Regions from separate parts of the Homo sapiens genome. Here region 1 is linked to region 2. A link means that fine-mapping ties the variant in region 2 to the expression of a gene that starts in the linked region. Tissue or cell type: sun-exposed skin. Region 2 holds a variant in brackets; the other region holds the start of a gene. All regions are shown on one strand. Distances are from middle to middle.

Region 1 (8,000 bases), 43 kb after region 2:
CTGAGATTGCGCCATTGCACTCCAGCTTGGGCAACAGAGCGAGACTGTCTCAAAAAAAAAAAAAAAAAAAAAAAAAGCAGGCATTTCACAGCCATGTTCATCGCATCAATATTCACAATGGCTAAAACAGGCCGGGTGTGGTGGCTCACGCCTGTAATCCCAGCGCTTTGGGAGGCTGAGGCTGACAGATCATCTGAGGTCAGGAGTTCAAGACCAGCCTGGCCAACATGCTGAAAACCTGTCTCTACTAAAAATGCAAAATTTAGCCAGGCGTGGTGGTGGGTGCCTGTAATCTCAGCTACTCCGGAGGCTGAGACAGGAGAATGGCCTGGACCCAGGAGGCGGAAGTTGCAGTAAGCCGAGATCGTGTCACTTCACTCCAGCCTGGACAACAGAGTGAGACTCTGTCTCGAAAAAAAAAAAGGACAAAATGCTGTAGGATTCCACTGATATGACGTACCTGGAGTCAGCAGAGCCACAGAGACAGATGGTAGAATGGTGAGTGCCAGGGGCTGGGGTCCATTGTTTAATGGCTACAGTTTCTACTGGGGGTGATGAGATAGTGGAAAATAGTGATGACGGTGCACAGCGTTGTGAAGGCAGGAATGTACCTAATGCCACCAAATTTCACACGCGGAAGTGGTTAAGTGGTCAATTTTATATTATGTATAATTCAGCACACAGACCAGCACGGCCCCAAGTGCGGATGCAGTAGGTCACGGCCAGCCGCCCGCCGATAGCCTTTCAGTCTGAGGGACAGCACAGACGTGATGTGTGGCCGGGCATGGCCCCCAGTCTGTGAGCCATAGAGGGTGGGACTGGGTGTCCCAGCAGGAATCGGGGTGTGGAGGAGCTGCCTAGATGGTCTGGAGAGGGCAGATGGACCTCGAGGGGAGGGTTTGGGCTCAGCAGCCTCTCACCCTTGCTGGCCAGGCTCCCAGGATTCCCTGCCCAGGGACCTCTCACCCCCTCAGCTGGTGGCTCTGCAGCCAACCTGCCCGTCTGTGCTGCTCCGGGGATGGGCAGAGAGAGATCGGGGGTGTCTGCACAGGCATGGGCAGCCTAGGCTCACTTGCCCCTTGGGTGACCTACTGTGCCCTGCACAGGCTGACGAGGGCCCTGGCGATGCAGACCTGGGGTCCTCCTGCAGAAGTTGGGCCCCTTCACATGTCAGGTTGCTGTGCCAGTGAAGGGGTGGCCAGCCCCTCCACACCTGTGGGTGTTTCTCGTCAGGTGGGATGAGAGACTGAGAAAAGAAATAAGACACAGAGACAAAGTATAGAGAAGGCAGTGGGCCCAGGAGACGGCGCTCAGTATACGGAGGACCCGCACCGGCCCCGGTCTCTGAGTTCCCTCAGTATTTATTCATTACCATTTTCACTATCTTTGCATGAGGAATGCGGCAGCAGAGCAGAGGTCAGCAAGAAAATGTGAGCAAAGGCATCTGTGTCACAAATAGCTTGAAGGGAAGGTGCTGTGCCCGGATGTGCACGTAGGCCAGATTCATGCTTCTCTCCACCCAAACATCTCAGTGTAGCAGAGTAACAGAGCAGCATTGCCGCCAGCATATCTCGCCTCCAGCCACAGGGCGGTTTTCTCCTGTCTCAGAATAGAACTAATGTACGATCGGGTTTTACACGGAGACATTCCGTTCCCAGGGGCATGTCGGAGACAGAAGCCTTCCTCTTATCTCAACTGCAAAGAGGCCTCCCTCTTTCACTAATCCTCCTCAGCACAGACCCTTTATGGGTGTCGGGCTGGGGGACGATCAGGTCTTTCCCTTCCCACGAGGCCATATCTCAGGCCGTCTCACTGGGGGGAAACCTGGACAATACCCAGGCTTTCTTGGGCAGAGGTCCCTGCGGCTTTCCGCAGTGCACTGTGTCCCTGGTTAATGGAGAATGGAGGATGGCGATGACTTTTACCAAGCATACTGCCTGCAAACACATTGTTAACAAAGCACATCCTGCACAGCCCTAAATCCCCTAAACCTTGAGTCAATACAGCACATGTTTCTGTGGGCACAGGGATGGGGCTAAGGTTACAGGTTACCAGCACAGGCCTAGATGCCTTAAACCTTGATTCCATACAGCATATGTTTCTGTGGGCACAGGGATGTGGGCAGGGGACTGTGGCCACCCTCACCCCTGGCAGAGCCATGCTGGGTAGCCCCATGCCCACCCTTCCCGGCTTGGGAGGCCCTGGCTGCTGCCCAGAGGGGCATCAATGCCTGGGCCGTGGACAAGAGGGAAAGTGGCTTCCTTGGAAACCCTGCTCCTGGAGCCCTCCCTGAGGCTCTGGCCCCTCTGTGGGCCCAGCCAAGCCTGGAGCGTCTCCAGGCTCTGGTGTGCTTGGGGAGCTGGCCAGCTCTCGGCCTAGCTGGCGTCTCCAGAGCTGCGGTCCTGGGTGAGGGTTGCTGGTGGAGTTCTGGCCACCTAAGGCACCCGAGGGAGCCAAAGGAGCAGAGGTGTGGGGTGGGGGACGCCGTGGGGTACCTCCACATCCAAGGAGGTCTGCTGTTTGTCCTCACCCCCGTCCTGCGGGGGCCCCGGCAGGCAGCCCCAGGAACTGCGTAGGGATGGGACAGGGCCCAGATGTGAGGGCCGTGGTGGGGACGGTGTGTGGCCCTGGATGACCTCGTGTTGCAGTGTGACGTGATGGTCACTGCCACCATGCTGAGGGCCCCAGCCACCAGTCACCCACCATGGGGGGTGCCTCTGTGTGAGGCACGGGAGGGCCATGGCGTGAGGGGCTGTGGAAGTGGCCGGTCTTCTCCGCTCAGCCCCACACAGGATGGGCAGGGCAGGGTCATGCTGGCCGAGGGTAGTCTTGGGAGAAGGACAGGGTAACTCTCTGTAGCTGAGCCCCTGCTGCCCCTGCACCTGTTCTGGGCCTGGCTAGCGGCCCATGTACATCCCCAGCAGGACTCCACGTAGCTAGTCTGGCACCCACCACTACGGCCCCCTCACCCACTCCCTGAACTGGACGCTGGGGAAAGGTGACTTCTTCCATCCTCTGGGTGCTCCCCAGGGAGGAGGCCCCAGCTCCCAGCAGAGGCCTCTGGTCCCCCCTTGTCCCTGCAGGGCTGTGTGGGCACACTGGGTGCCAGTCGGAAGGGCAGGTGGCGATTCCCAGCTCTTGGGAGCTACCCGGCCACATCCCGGCCCTGCCCAGACGCTCCAGGGGCACCCCACACTCCTGCCCGCTGCGAGGCCCCGCCCCGCCAAGCCCAGCCCGTTATCGCTTGGACAAACCCTGGGTTGCTTTCTTCGGGGGGCCAGCACTCTGTTTGGGACCCTCTCCCTCCCGCCCTTAGGGCAGCAGAACGGCCCCCACTCTCCCGGCCCTGCCTTGGAGTGGGGCACCTGCCAGGAGCAAGTGCTGGGGAGGCTTGGCGGGCGCAGCAGGGACTCGCCCTAGCGCAGCTCCGGATGGGGCCGCGGTAGGAGGACGAGCCAGTGGGGCGGGAGGCCGCGGAGATGGCCCGGGGGCCCTCTGCTTCCCCGCGCCGTGCCCGGGAAGGACCCCTGGGCAGCGGCCGCGGGGCGCGGGGTGTTGGGGGGCACAGCCCCGGCGCGGCGCTGAAGCAGCGACGGTCTCCGTGGGGACCGCGGGCGCCCGAAACACGTGGGGCCTGGAGGGAGGAGCGCGCCCTGGCGGCCCCGTGACCCCGCCCACGTGACGGGCGCCCGCGGAAGGCGACATGGGCTCCGCTCCCTGGGCCCCGGTCCTGCTGCTGGCGCTCGGGCTGCGCGGCCTCCAGGCGGGGGGTGAGTGGCGGCGCCCCCCGGCCCATTCCCCGGTCCCGGCCCCGCCTCTGAGGTTCGCGTCCCCCCACAGCCCGCAGGGCCCCGGACCCCGGCTTCCAGGAGCGCTTCTTCCAGCAGCGTCTGGACCACTTCAACTTCGAGCGCTTCGGCAACAAGACCTTCCCTCAGCGCTTCCTGGTGTCGGGTGAGACCCCGGCCCCGGCCCGGCCGCCCCCGCCGTCCCGCCGCCCCCCGGCACCCTCGCCTCATCCGCCCTCCCCACAGACAGGTTCTGGGTCCGGGGCGAGGGGCCCATCTTCTTCTACACTGGGAACGAGGGCGACGTGTGGGCCTTCGCCAACAACTCGGCCTTCGTCGCGGAGCTGGCGGCCGAGCGGGGGGCTCTACTGGTCTTCGCGGAGCACGTGGGTGCCGGGCGGGGTCGCGGGCGGGGTCGCGGGGCACGTGGGTGCCGGGCGGGGTCGCGGGCGGGGGTCGCGGGGCACGCGGGTGCCGGGCGGGGTCGCGGGCGGGGGTCGCGGGGCACGCGGGTGCCGGGCGGGGTCGCGGGCGGGGGTCGCGGGGCACGCGGGTGCCGGGCGGGGTCGCGGGGCCGGGCTCAATGGCACGTTCCCCCAGCGCTACTACGGGAAGTCGCTGCCGTTCGGTGCGCAGTCCACGCAGCGCGGGCACACGGAGCTGCTGACGGTGGAGCAGGCCCTGGCCGACTTCGCAGAGCTGCTCCGCGCGCTACGACGCGACCTCGGGGCCCAGGATGCCCCCGCCATCGCCTTCGGTGGAAGGTGGGCGCCTCCCCCGGCCTCCGCACCCCCTCCCTCCCCTGCCCCGACCCAGCGCCCCCAGCCCTTCTCCCCACTCCCCTCTGACTCCCACCGCTGCCTTTTCGTAAGGCCTCAGGCAGTGGTTCCAGGCTTAGTGTTGCCTCCCCCAGGAAGCCCTCCCACCTGTCCTCCCAGCCACCTGCTCAGCTTGGATGTGCGGCCACACTAGCGGCCTTTCCCAGTGAGAGCTGCACCCGCACCTGGCCCAGGGTTGGAATTTGTGGGTCTCAGAAGTGTCGTCCTCCTTGTGGCACCTGTGGGCCCCTGAGGAGGAAAAGAGGAAATGGGGTGTTGGGGGCAGCAGCCCTAACCCTGTGTCCCTCACCCAGTTATGGGGGGATGCTCAGTGCCTACCTGAGGATGAAGTATCCCCACCTGGTGGCGGGGGCGCTGGCGGCCAGCGCGCCCGTTCTAGCTGTGGCAGGCCTCGGCGACTCCAACCAGTTCTTCCGGGACGTCACGGCGGTGAGTGAGGCTTGGGGTCCTCCAGGCCCCCTAAGGGACAGCAGCTGCAGTCAGCACGGTCTCTTTCCCCCAGGACTTTGAGGGCCAGAGTCCCAAATGCACCCAGGGTGTGCGGGAAGCGTTCCGACAGATCAAGGACTTGTTCCTACAGGGAGGTGAGGTCCTCCCACCGCCTCCCACTGCCTGACCCGCCCCAGCGCCAGCTATGCCCAAACTTCAAGTCTCTGCCCCTTCCACGCAGCCTACGACACGGTCCGCTGGGAGTTCGGCACCTGCCAGCCGCTGTCAGACGAGAAGGACCTGACCCAGCTCTTCATGTTCGCCCGGAATGCCTTCACCGTGCTGGCCATGATGGACTACCCCTACCCCACTGACTTCCTGGGTCCCCTCCCTGCCAACCCCGTCAAGGTGAGGCGCCGCCTCCCAGGGCGCAGGGAGAGGCCGGCTGGAGTGTCCCGAGGCTGGTGGTCAGCGGCCTGACCCTCATCCTGGGAGCCAGGGAGGCGGAGCTGGTGGAGGGGACCCCGCTGAGTCGCCGCTGCCCCTGCACTCCAGGTGGGCTGTGATCGGCTGCTGAGTGAGGCCCAGAGGATCACGGGGCTGCGAGCACTGGCAGGTGCCCTTCCCCCGGCCCCAGATGGGCAAGTGTGGAGACCCCAGGCTTGGCTTGGGTCCTGGGGCCGGGTGGGGCGAGGATCCGCAGCCCGGCCAGGGGCTTTGCCTCCTGCCCCAGGGCTGTGGTGGGGTGGACAGCACGACCTTCCCAGAAACCCTGGGGGAGGCAGGGGCCGTCCCTGGGGACCCTCTCAGCACTGGCTGTAGCCAGGCCCAGCTTGGTGGGTGCTGCCCAAGGGGCCCCTGGGGTCCCCAGCATGGAGGGCAACAGAGGGCAGCAGGCCCCACCCTGCCCCGTGGAGAGCGGGGGGGCCCTCAACAGTCAGGCCCGGGGCTGGCAGCACAGACACCGCCGACCTCCAAGCAGGTAGCCTGGAGGGCCTTCCTCACTGGGACCTACAGATCCCAGAGCCCCAGATCCCCTGCAGGACCATTCCGAGGGGGGACAGGTTGGTGGCCGGAGCCCGCGGTGTGTCTGTGTGTGGCCGCTGGGCCCCAGCGCCTCTCCTCCCCAGGGCTGGTCTACAACGCCTCGGGCTCCGAGCACTGCTACGACATCTACCGGCTCTACCACAGCTGTGCTGACCCCACTGGCTGCGGCACCGGCCCCGACGCCAGGGCCTGGGACTACCAGGTGTGGGGGTGTGGGTGGCCTGGAACCACTCGGGGGCAAGGGTGGGCGTGGGCTGGCCTGACTCAGGCTGGGGCACCTGCAGGCCTGCACCGAGATCAACCTGACCTTCGCCAGCAACAATGTGACCGATATGTTCCCGGACCTGCCCTTCACTGACGAGCTCCGCCAGCGGTACTGCCTGGACACCTGGGGCGTGTGGCCCCGGCCCGACTGGCTGCTGACCAGCTTCTGGGGGGGTGGTAAGGCTGAGGGGGGGTGGGCCAGCGTCCTGCTTTCTGCCCCGAGCTCTGCACCCCCTGCCCATGGCTCACAGCCCCCGTGAGGGGCCCACATCACAACTTTCTCTGCCCCTTGCAGATCTCAGAGCCGCCAGCAACATCATCTTCTCCAACGGGAACCTGGACCCCTGGGCAGGGGGCGGGGTGAGTCCTGGCCTGGGCCCTATGACCCCGTTAGTTTGTTTGTTTTTTTTTTGAGACAGGGTCTTTCTCTGGCGCCCAGGCTGGAATACAGTGGCGAGATCAGGGTTCACTGCAGCCTTGACCTCTGAGGCTCAAGCCTCCCAGTAACTGGGACTACAGGCGCTCACCAACATGCCCAGCTAATTTAAAAAAATATTTTTTTGTAGAGACACAGTCTCACCATATCGCCCAGGCTGGTCTCGAACTCTTGGGCTCAAACGATCTTCCCCGCATGGCCTCCCAGAGTGCTGGGATCACAGGCCCCTCGCCTGCCCCTACCCTGCTCCCGTCTCACCCCCAGAGTGCTGGGATCACAGGCCCCTCGCCTGCCCCTACCCTGCTCCCGTCTCACCCCCAGAGTGCTGGGATCACAGGCCCCTCGCCTGCCCCTACCCTGCTCCCGTCTCACCCTCAGAGTGCTGGGATCACAGGCCCCTCACCTGCCCCTACCCTGCTCCTGTCTTACTCCCAGAGTGCTGGGATCACAGGCCTCACACCTGCCCCTTCCCTGCTCCTGTCTCACCCGGTTTTGCCCCCATCATCTCGTCACTTCCCACCTCCGTCTCTGGCTGGTTCTCTCTGGTTGCTTGATGGGCACTGAGTCTCGGCTCGCCCTCTCACGTCTCCTCTCCAATGGGCCCACGGAGGCTGGGCAGTTGCCTCGTTCCTCACCTGATGGAGTTCTTTCCACTGACCACAGATTCGGAGGAACCTGAGTGCCTCAGTCATCGCCGTCACCATCCAGGGGGGAGCGCACCACCTCGACCTCAGGTGCGGAGGGAGGTGGCCTGGCGGTGGTCGCGGGTCGGGCGGGACAGGCTCACCGAGGGCTGGGGCTGACGGGCCCCCTCTGTGCCCGCTCCCCAGAGCCTCCCACCCAGAAGATCCTGCTTCCGTGGTTGAGGCGCGGAAGCTGGAGGCCACCATCATCGGCGAGTGGGTAAAGGCAGCCAGGCGTGAGCAGCAGCCAGCTCTGCGTGGGGGGCCCAGACTCAGCCTCTGAGCACAGGACTGGAGGGGTCTCAAGGCTCCTCATGGAGTGGGGGCTTCACTCAAGCAGCTGGCGGCAGAGGGAAGGGGCTGAATAAACGCCTGGAGGCCTGGCCATGTATGTCCCGTCCTTCCTGTCTGTGGGGCCCACACGCAGGCTGTGGGAGCGGGACCCTCGGAGACACGGCTGGGGACGCGGCGCACCCCACACAGGCCGGGTATGCCATGTGCTCCACAAGGTAGA
Region 2 (8,000 bases):
ACCTAAGGCTGCCCAGGGCGGCAGTCTCTTCTCAGCTCCCAGCCTCCCCTGGCGCCCCTCTTAATCCCCGACGCACCCCTCACACCCCCCGCCCTGCGCCGCCGGCCACTGCCCCTCTCTGGAGCTTCTTCACGAGCCCAAGTGTTCAGGACACGTCCTCCCCAGCCACCGTCAGCATCGTCTGCCTGCAGCCCCGGGGGGGTGGGGGCTGGGGGCTCAGAAAAGACTCCTGGAGAGCTGGACCCTTCTCTTGGCCACTTTTTCTCCAGTCTTGGCTTAGACATGATTCCCCGCCAGGTGCTGTGGCTCACGCCTGTAATCCCAGCACTTTGGGAGGCCGAGGCGGCCGGATCACGAGGTCAGGAGATCGAGACCATCCTGGCTAACACGGTGAAACCCCGTCTCTACTGAAAATACAAAAAAATTAGCCGGGCGTGGTGGTGGGCACCTGTAGTCCCAGCTACTCAGGAGGCTGAGGCAGGAGAATGGCGTGAACCCGGGAGGCGGAGCTTGCAGTGAGCGGAGACCGCGCCACTGCACTCCAGCCTGGGCGACAGAGCGAGACTCTGTCTCAAAAAAAAAAAGACATGATTCCCTCCAGCAGAGGAGCCGCTGATGTCCCGTGTATGCCAGGCATCTTCCTGGGGTGAGAAACAGCCCAGCCTGCAGGCTGACCCCCACCCTGCTGTGCCACGAGGACAGGGGCATGTCCACAAAGCCGACCCTGCACCTGCACAGGACCTGGGACCCGTGGGGCCACCCACCCGTGCCTCCCTTCATCCCGGCGCACTGCCTGTCCCGGCCCCCAGTCCCGAAGCCCTCAGGCTTTGAATGTAGGTCTCTGGCTCCTTTCTCTTGCCCGTGTGTACGTGCTCCACCGCGCCGTGGCCTCTTCGACCCACACTCCTGCTTGGGCTCGCCCTCCTGTCTGTCCTTCAAGGGACCATGGCATGGGGGTGGGGAAGGGATCTGGGGCACAGGGGGCTGGAATAGAGCATAGCACACTGCCAGAACTGTGAGGGGAGATGGTGTCAGAGCTGAGCCCTCAAGGTGGGCAGGGATCAAGCAGGTGCCTGAGGGCAGGTGGAGCAGAGGAGTCTGCAGTCCAGAACTGCAAAGGCAGGGAGGCGTGGGGGTGGTGGGAGAGGCACCCTCCCGGCATGTCCTAGGCAGGGTGAGCCTGAGAGGGGGGCAGGCCCGCCCACCCTCAGCCTCCAGGCAGCATTTTGTCTTTTATCCCCAGGGGAATCAGGAGCCATTGAAGAAGTTGATTTGCTTTATAAAACTTTCATTACATTTTCCTGTTATACAGGTAATATATATGCTAGTATTTTTAAAAAATTAGTGAGGCCAGAAACAAATTTGTAAAAAGCCATCTCCATCTCACAGCCTAGATGGGGCCTTTTGGCCATTAGCGTTTGACCGCTGCTTTCAGACTTTTCAGTGTGAGGTGTCTGGGCTGCAATGAAACCCACACTGGCACTGGAAAACCCCACCCTGTCTGCAGAGCAGGGAAGGGAGCTTGGGTGAGAGGCCACAGGGGCCGGTGCAGAGCAGGGGAGGGAGCCTGGGTGAGAGGTCACAGGGGCTGACACCAAGCTTCAGGGGTGGGCTCAGAAAACAGACAGGGTCAAGAGACATTTGAGGGCTTGGAATGACCGAGAGAAGGTTGGTGGGCGTGTCGCCTGTGAGGTCCTTGCCTTTGGTGGTCTGTGATGCTACCAGGACTGGAGTGTGTGTGGAGTGGGGGTAGTGTGGCTCTGCCCGGGGAGGAATGGCCAGGAGAGCACCCTGGAGTAGGGAGCCAAGGGAAAGATGTTCTGGAGGAGGAAGCCGGCGAGGGCAGAGGCTCTCAGAGGCCCAGGGGAGTCAGGAAGGGCTGTCCCACACGGTGGAAGAGGACAGTTTGACCCGGTCCCATCAAGAGCAATGCAGGCTGGAGGAGGGATGAGGGGTGTGGAGGACCAGGACTGGGGACAGCGAGTGCTGAAGCTGAGGTCTGCCTGCTGTCCCCCATCTGCTCTTCCCCAGCAGGGTCCTGTCAGACAACTAACTGCCCCAGACTTAAGTAGGGCTGGGTCAAGAGGGGCACTGGAGACCCCCTGTGGGATGGGGGCAGCTTCCTCTCCTCCCTCCTGTTCTCTCTGCTTCCTGTGCTGTGCCAGGTGTGCTGGACGGTGTCCAGGGGAAGCAGGCCCCACCCCCACTTCCTTTAGTGGCTTTCATTGACCTCACCGCACCCTCCTCCTTCAGGCCAGAGGGGGTGGATGGGCTGTCTGGGGTGGGGACACTGAGGGAGGTCTGTGGGGCCCCCACCTTCAGTCTGGTGGACATCTGGTACCCTCGAGGCTTCTCTGTCTCTCCGCCTGGCCAGATGATCTTCCTGTCATTAGGGATGACCTGGGGGTGGGAGTATGAGATGGAGGGTGGCCACGCAGGGGTCTTGGCCCCAGGACCCTAAGGCCCCAGCCCCCACCCCCTCATGACCCCCACCTACGTGGGTGCCATTGTAGATGCCCACTTGCACCAGCTTGCGGTTCTGCAGGTTCATGATGCTGTAGTTGGCGAACTTCCGGTCCCCATCCTCATTGAACTCCACGCGACCAGTCACCCCATCCGCATACTTGGAAGACATCAGCACTCTAGGGAAGGAAGCATAGCTGAGGCTTCTCAGAGATGCTCCTTCTCCTGCTCCTCCCTGCTCCTTCCCCCTGCTGCTTCTCCCTGCTCCTTCCCCCTGCTCCTTCTCCCTGCTCCTTCTCCTGCCGGCTGAGCAGCTTGGGCTTTTCCCTTGTCCCAGTCCCAAGAACGGAAAGATCAGCAGACGCCAGACCCTGGACACCGTGGTATCTGCCTGCACCAGATGGACGGTGTGGTTCATGACAGCTGAGTGGTTTATGGGTGCCAGACCCGGCTTTCTGTGGGTTAGGACGTTGTCCTCAGAACCATCCTGCCTTACAGAGACGGAGGCAGAAGCTCAGAAGGATGCCTGCCCTCTTGCCAGCAAGTGAAGGCGAGGTTGAGCCAGCTCTAACCACCAGGCTGTCCTGTCCGGCTGTGTGTGCACGTGTGCATTGTACCCATCGGGCCACATCAGTGAACCTGTGTGCACACGTGATCCCTATGTGGGGTGCACCCCATGCATGTGCTTGTGTCACATGTGTGTCATGTGCCTGAGTCTGTGTGCACACATGGTTCTGTGTATGTGTGTCGTGTGTGTGCACACGTGCTGCCTACATCTGCACTTATGTGGGCGTTGTGGATGGTGGCTCTGCACGTGCTACTCAGTGGTTGGGGATCTGGGGGTGAGCTGGCATGGCATGGTGTCCAGGCGTGCTGTGAGCTAACTCCTGCCACACTGCAGATGTTCACTTGGGTCTCTGGGCCTTGGCCAACCCTGGCTGTCTAAGGCTCGTGTGCTGTTCTTGGGCTGCTTGTCTGGCCTCCTGGGTCCCTGGAAGCTTTCAGTCCCCATCTGCATCAAGAGCCTCCTCCCAAAGGCTGCCAGCCACACAGGGAGAGGGGTGCTGTTTCAGGGTGGGCTGCAGTGTGGAAAGTAGGGGCGGAGGCAGTGGAGCCAGTCCCCACTCCAGTGACGGCCCAGGTACTGGTGTCAGTGTTGAGAAGAGGGCAGATGATTGTGCCATTAGATGTGGTGGTGCTGGGGGTGTGGGGGGAGAGGAGAGAAGTAACAGTGTCCAGAGGATGTTGGCAGCAGGCTCCACTGCAGTACCCCTGAGAGCGACGCCGCCCACCTCCTGGAAGCGACCCCGCCCACCTCCCCGAGAGTGCCCCCACCCATCTCTTGAGGAGCGCTCCCCCAGCTCCCTAAGAGCGGCCCCGCCTAGTCCTGAGAGCTGCTCCGCCCAGCTCTGGAGAGTGGCCCCGCCCACCTCCCCAAGAGCGGCCCCGCCCATCTCTGGAGTGACCCCGCCCACCTCCCCAAGAGCAGCCCCGCCCAGCTCCGGGGAGGCCCCGCCCACCTCTTGAAGAGCGGCCCGGTCTTCCAGATGTTGGTGTTGCCCACGCAGCCCCGCGGCGGGTCGGTGATGTTCTCCTTCTCGAGGAGCTCGTGCACGGCCTGGGCCACCACGCCCACGGCGTCGCTGATGTGGGCCGACTCGTTCTTGCCGTTGATGAGCTGCAGCCCGAGGATGCCTAGGCGAGCATGCGACTCAGAGCCCGTGGGGTCCTCCCCGTTCGGGGACCCCGCCAAGGCCCAGCACTCACCGTCTGGGGCGTAGCGCAGGGCGTTCCCCGAGATCTCGCGCTCGCCGACCAGCCACACGTACCCGGAGCCCGTCATGTTCAGCATCGCGGCTGCGCGGTATACAGTGGCAGCATCGTCCTCGCTGTGGGGCAGACGGGGATGACGGGCCAGGACTCCAGCACTCCCACCGCGGCGCTCCGCAGGCCCAGGTCCTCCTCCTCTGGAGCAGGGACCTGCCCAGCCCCCATCCCCTCCTAGAGCGAAGCCTGCAGACCTCGCAGAGGCGCTGCGGCCCAGAACCCAGGAGCCTCCCAGGCCTCCGTTGCTGGCTCTTACCTTGGGGGAGCAGGGATGGGGTTAGATGCTGGCCCCCTTACCTTGGGGGAGCAGGGATGGGGTTAGATGCTGGCCCTTACCTTGGGGGAGCAGGGGTGGGGTTAGATGCTGGCCCTTACCTTGGGGGAGCAGGGA[T/C]GGGGTTAGATACCTGGCTTATGGGACTGACTTCCTTCTTGTGACCTGCACCTGTGCTCCCCAGCACGCCCTTCCCTCCACCTCAGAAGGCTCTGATGGGGTCCCAGGATGGTAATGGATCACCATTGATCACTTGCTGGCCAGATACCAGGCACTGCTCGAAGTGTTTTACGGGGATTATGTTGTTTAACTTTCACAATATCTCTGTGTCCCGAGGGGAAGCGGAGGCACATGGGACACACAAGAGTTGGTAAGTGGCAGAGTCAGGACCCGAGCTCCTAAGACCTCCTAGACAGGCCACACCCCTCTGGTCCTCTATGTTCAAACATGTGAAATGAGGGGTTGAGTGGCTCTCCAGGTTGGTGAGATATTGGTGGATCCAGCGTCCTGGGGACGGCCAGAGATGAGAGGCGGCTTTCCCCCTGGAGTCTGCATAAGCAGCTGCCTTCGCCCAGCCACCCAGGCCTGGGGCCTGCAGGAGGACAGAGCCCAGACAGGCCTCACCTTGCAGGCATGTGTGGTCTTGAGCTCTGCCAGTGTGCTTGCAGGTGGGCCCCTGTGGACAGTGGAGCAGGGGACCTGGTCCTCTGGGGCTGGGGCCTCTCTGGTTATGACAAGGACCTGGAGACCTGGTGGGACTCTGGAGGCCTTTGGGGGGTCTTCCCTCACCCCCGTCTGTCAGACCTTTCTCTGCAGGGCCTGACCTGTCTCCAGGTGGGCCTGGACTACCCCTGACACTTTGCTTCTCCAGACATGGGCAGCAGGGTTGGGTGGATTGCCTGAGTGTTGGATAATTTTCACAATACTTGACTGGAAACCAAGGTGGCCCTCCCCTCCTTGAGGAGGGATCTGCCCCCAGTTTTCTCGAGAATAAGCCCACAAAGAAATGCAGCCCTTCGGTGTTTGCTCTACATAACGATGCTATTGGATGTCAGTGACACAAAACAGAAGTGCTCCCAGTAGCACTGGCCCAGTGCCCCAAATGAGAGCATCTAGCAGAGGCTCCGCACACTGAACACAGCACAGCTTGTCCAGCAAGACCCAACACCACACGTGTCATGGCACAGCATGCCCGCTATCAAAGTGCCCACCAGGGCCTGACAGACAAGCCCGTCTTCTTGACGCAATTCAGGTCCATGACATGTGATGTGGTGGAATGATTAGGAGCAAAACAGTTGTAAACAAAAGCCTGATCTGTCCATCAAAACTCATCCGATCGTTTTATGGAAATAGCTGATACCAATCAAGATGACTTCAGGAAAATGAAAAGTTTTGGAAACAAATTATCTGCATGCTATGGAAAATTGTCAAAAATTAAGATTGGCGTCATGTCTCTCTGCAAAACACCCTCAACAACCTTCACTAAGGAGGAGCCAAAATATGACAGGCTGAAGGTCTGGGGTCAAGAAGGCCTGTGCCTGCCACTGCCCAGGGCTTGCCTCTCTGCACTCCTGGGAGATGGGCATGCTGGGTGGGCCAGTCGGCCTCTGCTGTGGGACTTTGGCCTCCACTCCAAGGAGCTCAGCATGTGAGAGGAGGGTCCTTTCCAGCCCTGACAGTCCAGAGCCATTGCTCTGAAGTATTTTGAGGCCAGGCGCAGTAACTGATGCCTGTAATCCCAGCACTTTGGGAGGCCGAGGCGGGCAGGTCTCCTGAGGTCAGGAATTTGAGACCAGCCTGACCAACATGGAGAAACCCCGTCTCTACAAAAACAAAAAAATTAGCCGGGGTGGTGGCGCATGCCTGTAATCCCAGCTACTCGGGAGGCCGTGGCAGGAGAATCGGTTGAATCTGGGAGGCGGAGGTTGCAGTGAGCCAAGATCGCGCCACTGCACTCCAGCCTGGGTGACAGAGTGAGACTCCATCTTAAAAAAAAAAAAAAAAAAAAAAAAAAAAAAAAAAAAAAAGTTGTTGGAGCTGGGGGTGGTGGCTGATGCCTGTCATCCCAGCCCTTTGGGAGGCCGAGGTGGGTGGATCACTTGAGGCCAGGAGTTCGAGACCAGCCTGGCCAACATGGCGAAACCCAGTCTCTACTAAAAATACAAAACTTAGCCAGGCATGGTGGCCTGCACCTGTAATTCCAGCTACTCGGGAGGCTGAGGCACGAGAATCACTTGAACCTGGGAGGCCGAGGTTGCAGTGAGCGAAGATTGTGCCACTGTACTCCAGCCTGGGTGACAGAGCAAGACTGTCTCACACACACACACAAAAAAAAAAGAAAAAAAAAAAGGCAGGCACGGTGGCTCATGCCTGTAATGCCAGCACTTTGGAAGGCTGAGGCAGGCGGATCACCTGAGGTCAGGAGTTCAAGACCAGCCTGGCCAACATGGTGAAACCTCATCTCTACTAAAAATACAAAAATTAGCCGGGCATGGTGGCACACACCTGTAATTCCTGCTACTCAGGAGGCTGAGGCAGGAGAATCGCTTGAATCCCAGGGGGCAGAGGTTGCAGTAAGCTGAGATCACGCCACTGCACTCCAGCCTGGGCAACAGAGCAAGACTCTATCTCCCCAAAAAAGAGAAAGAGTTATGTTGGCGGGTGTGTGGTTGATGTGTGCTGTGGTCAGTGTATGCATATGTGTGGGGTATGGTGTGCATGTAGCATGGGTGTATGGGTGTGCACATGGTGTGTGGTGCGCATGTGTGTTGTGATGTATGTGCATGTGTGCTGTGTGTACATGTATGTAGGTGTGCGTATATCAGTGGATGTCTTTGTATGTGATGTATATGGTGGTGTGTGTGCCTGTATCTGTATGTGTAGATGCACGTGTGTATGGTGTATGCATGGTGCATGTGTGTACACATGTGGTATATGGCATGTGTGCACATGTGTATGTGTTGTGTATGACCTGTACATGATGGTGCATGTGTGGGTAGAGATGTATGTGTAGTGTGACTATGGTGCGTACATACATTTGTGTGTGTATGCATGGAGCATGTGGTGTGTATGTGGCATGTGCATACATGCGTATGTGTTGTGTATGACCTATACACAATTCTGCATGTGTGGGTAGAGATGATGCATGGTGTGACTATGGTGTGTGTACATACATTTGTGCACATGTGTATGGTGTATGCATGGTGCATGTGTGTACACGTGGTATGTGGCATGTGTGCACATGTGTATGTGTTGTGTGTGACCTGTACATGATGGTGCATGTGTGGGTAGAGATCTATGAGTGGTGTGACTATGGTGTGTGTACATACATTTGTGCACGTGTGTGTGTGGTGTATGCATGGTGCATGTGTGTACACGTGGTGTGTATATGGCATGTGTGCACGTGTATGTGTTGTGTATGACCTGTACATGATTCTGC

The links. PIP is the estimated chance that this variant, and not a neighbour inherited with it, causes the effect.
Region 1: DPP7 starts here. The variant in region 2 is fine-mapped to the expression of DPP7 in sun-exposed skin (GTEx, PIP above 0.99).

What each region holds. Positions count from the first base shown.
Region 1 is chr9:137,110,417-137,118,416 of GRCh38, reverse strand. DPP7 (dipeptidyl peptidase 7) reads left to right here and starts at 3,684. Exons shown (of 13, transcript NM_013379.3): 1 at 3,684-3,770; 2 at 3,841-3,954; 3 at 4,035-4,174; 4 at 4,389-4,552; 5 at 4,921-5,056; 6 at 5,130-5,211; 7 at 5,298-5,464; 8 at 5,612-5,672; 9 at 6,187-6,305; 10 at 6,388-6,544; 11 at 6,663-6,727; 12 at 7,467-7,537; 13 at 7,634-7,871. The coding sequence starts at 3,704. The coding sequence ends at 7,769. It overlaps LOC124902314 (a long non-coding RNA gene), which reads right to left and starts at 3,618. Exons shown (of 2, transcript XR_007061874.1): 1 at 1,373-3,618; 2 at 639-1,246. RefSeq lists silencers at 3,459-3,808, 3,839-3,988.
Region 2 is chr9:137,153,021-137,161,020 of GRCh38, reverse strand. GRIN1 (glutamate ionotropic receptor NMDA type subunit 1) reads right to left here. Exons shown (of 20, transcript NM_007327.4): 5 at 4,231-4,352; 6 at 3,984-4,158; 7 at 2,498-2,642; 8 at 2,317-2,400. LOC105376328 (a long non-coding RNA gene) reads left to right here. Exons shown (of 3, transcript XR_007061878.1): 1 at 1-837; 2 at 1,244-1,312; 3 at 2,032-5,999. Among named protein-coding and RNA genes, the nearest start is that of MIR3621, 12 kb to the left of the region's middle. The variant T/C (reference allele first, on the strand shown) is at 4,682.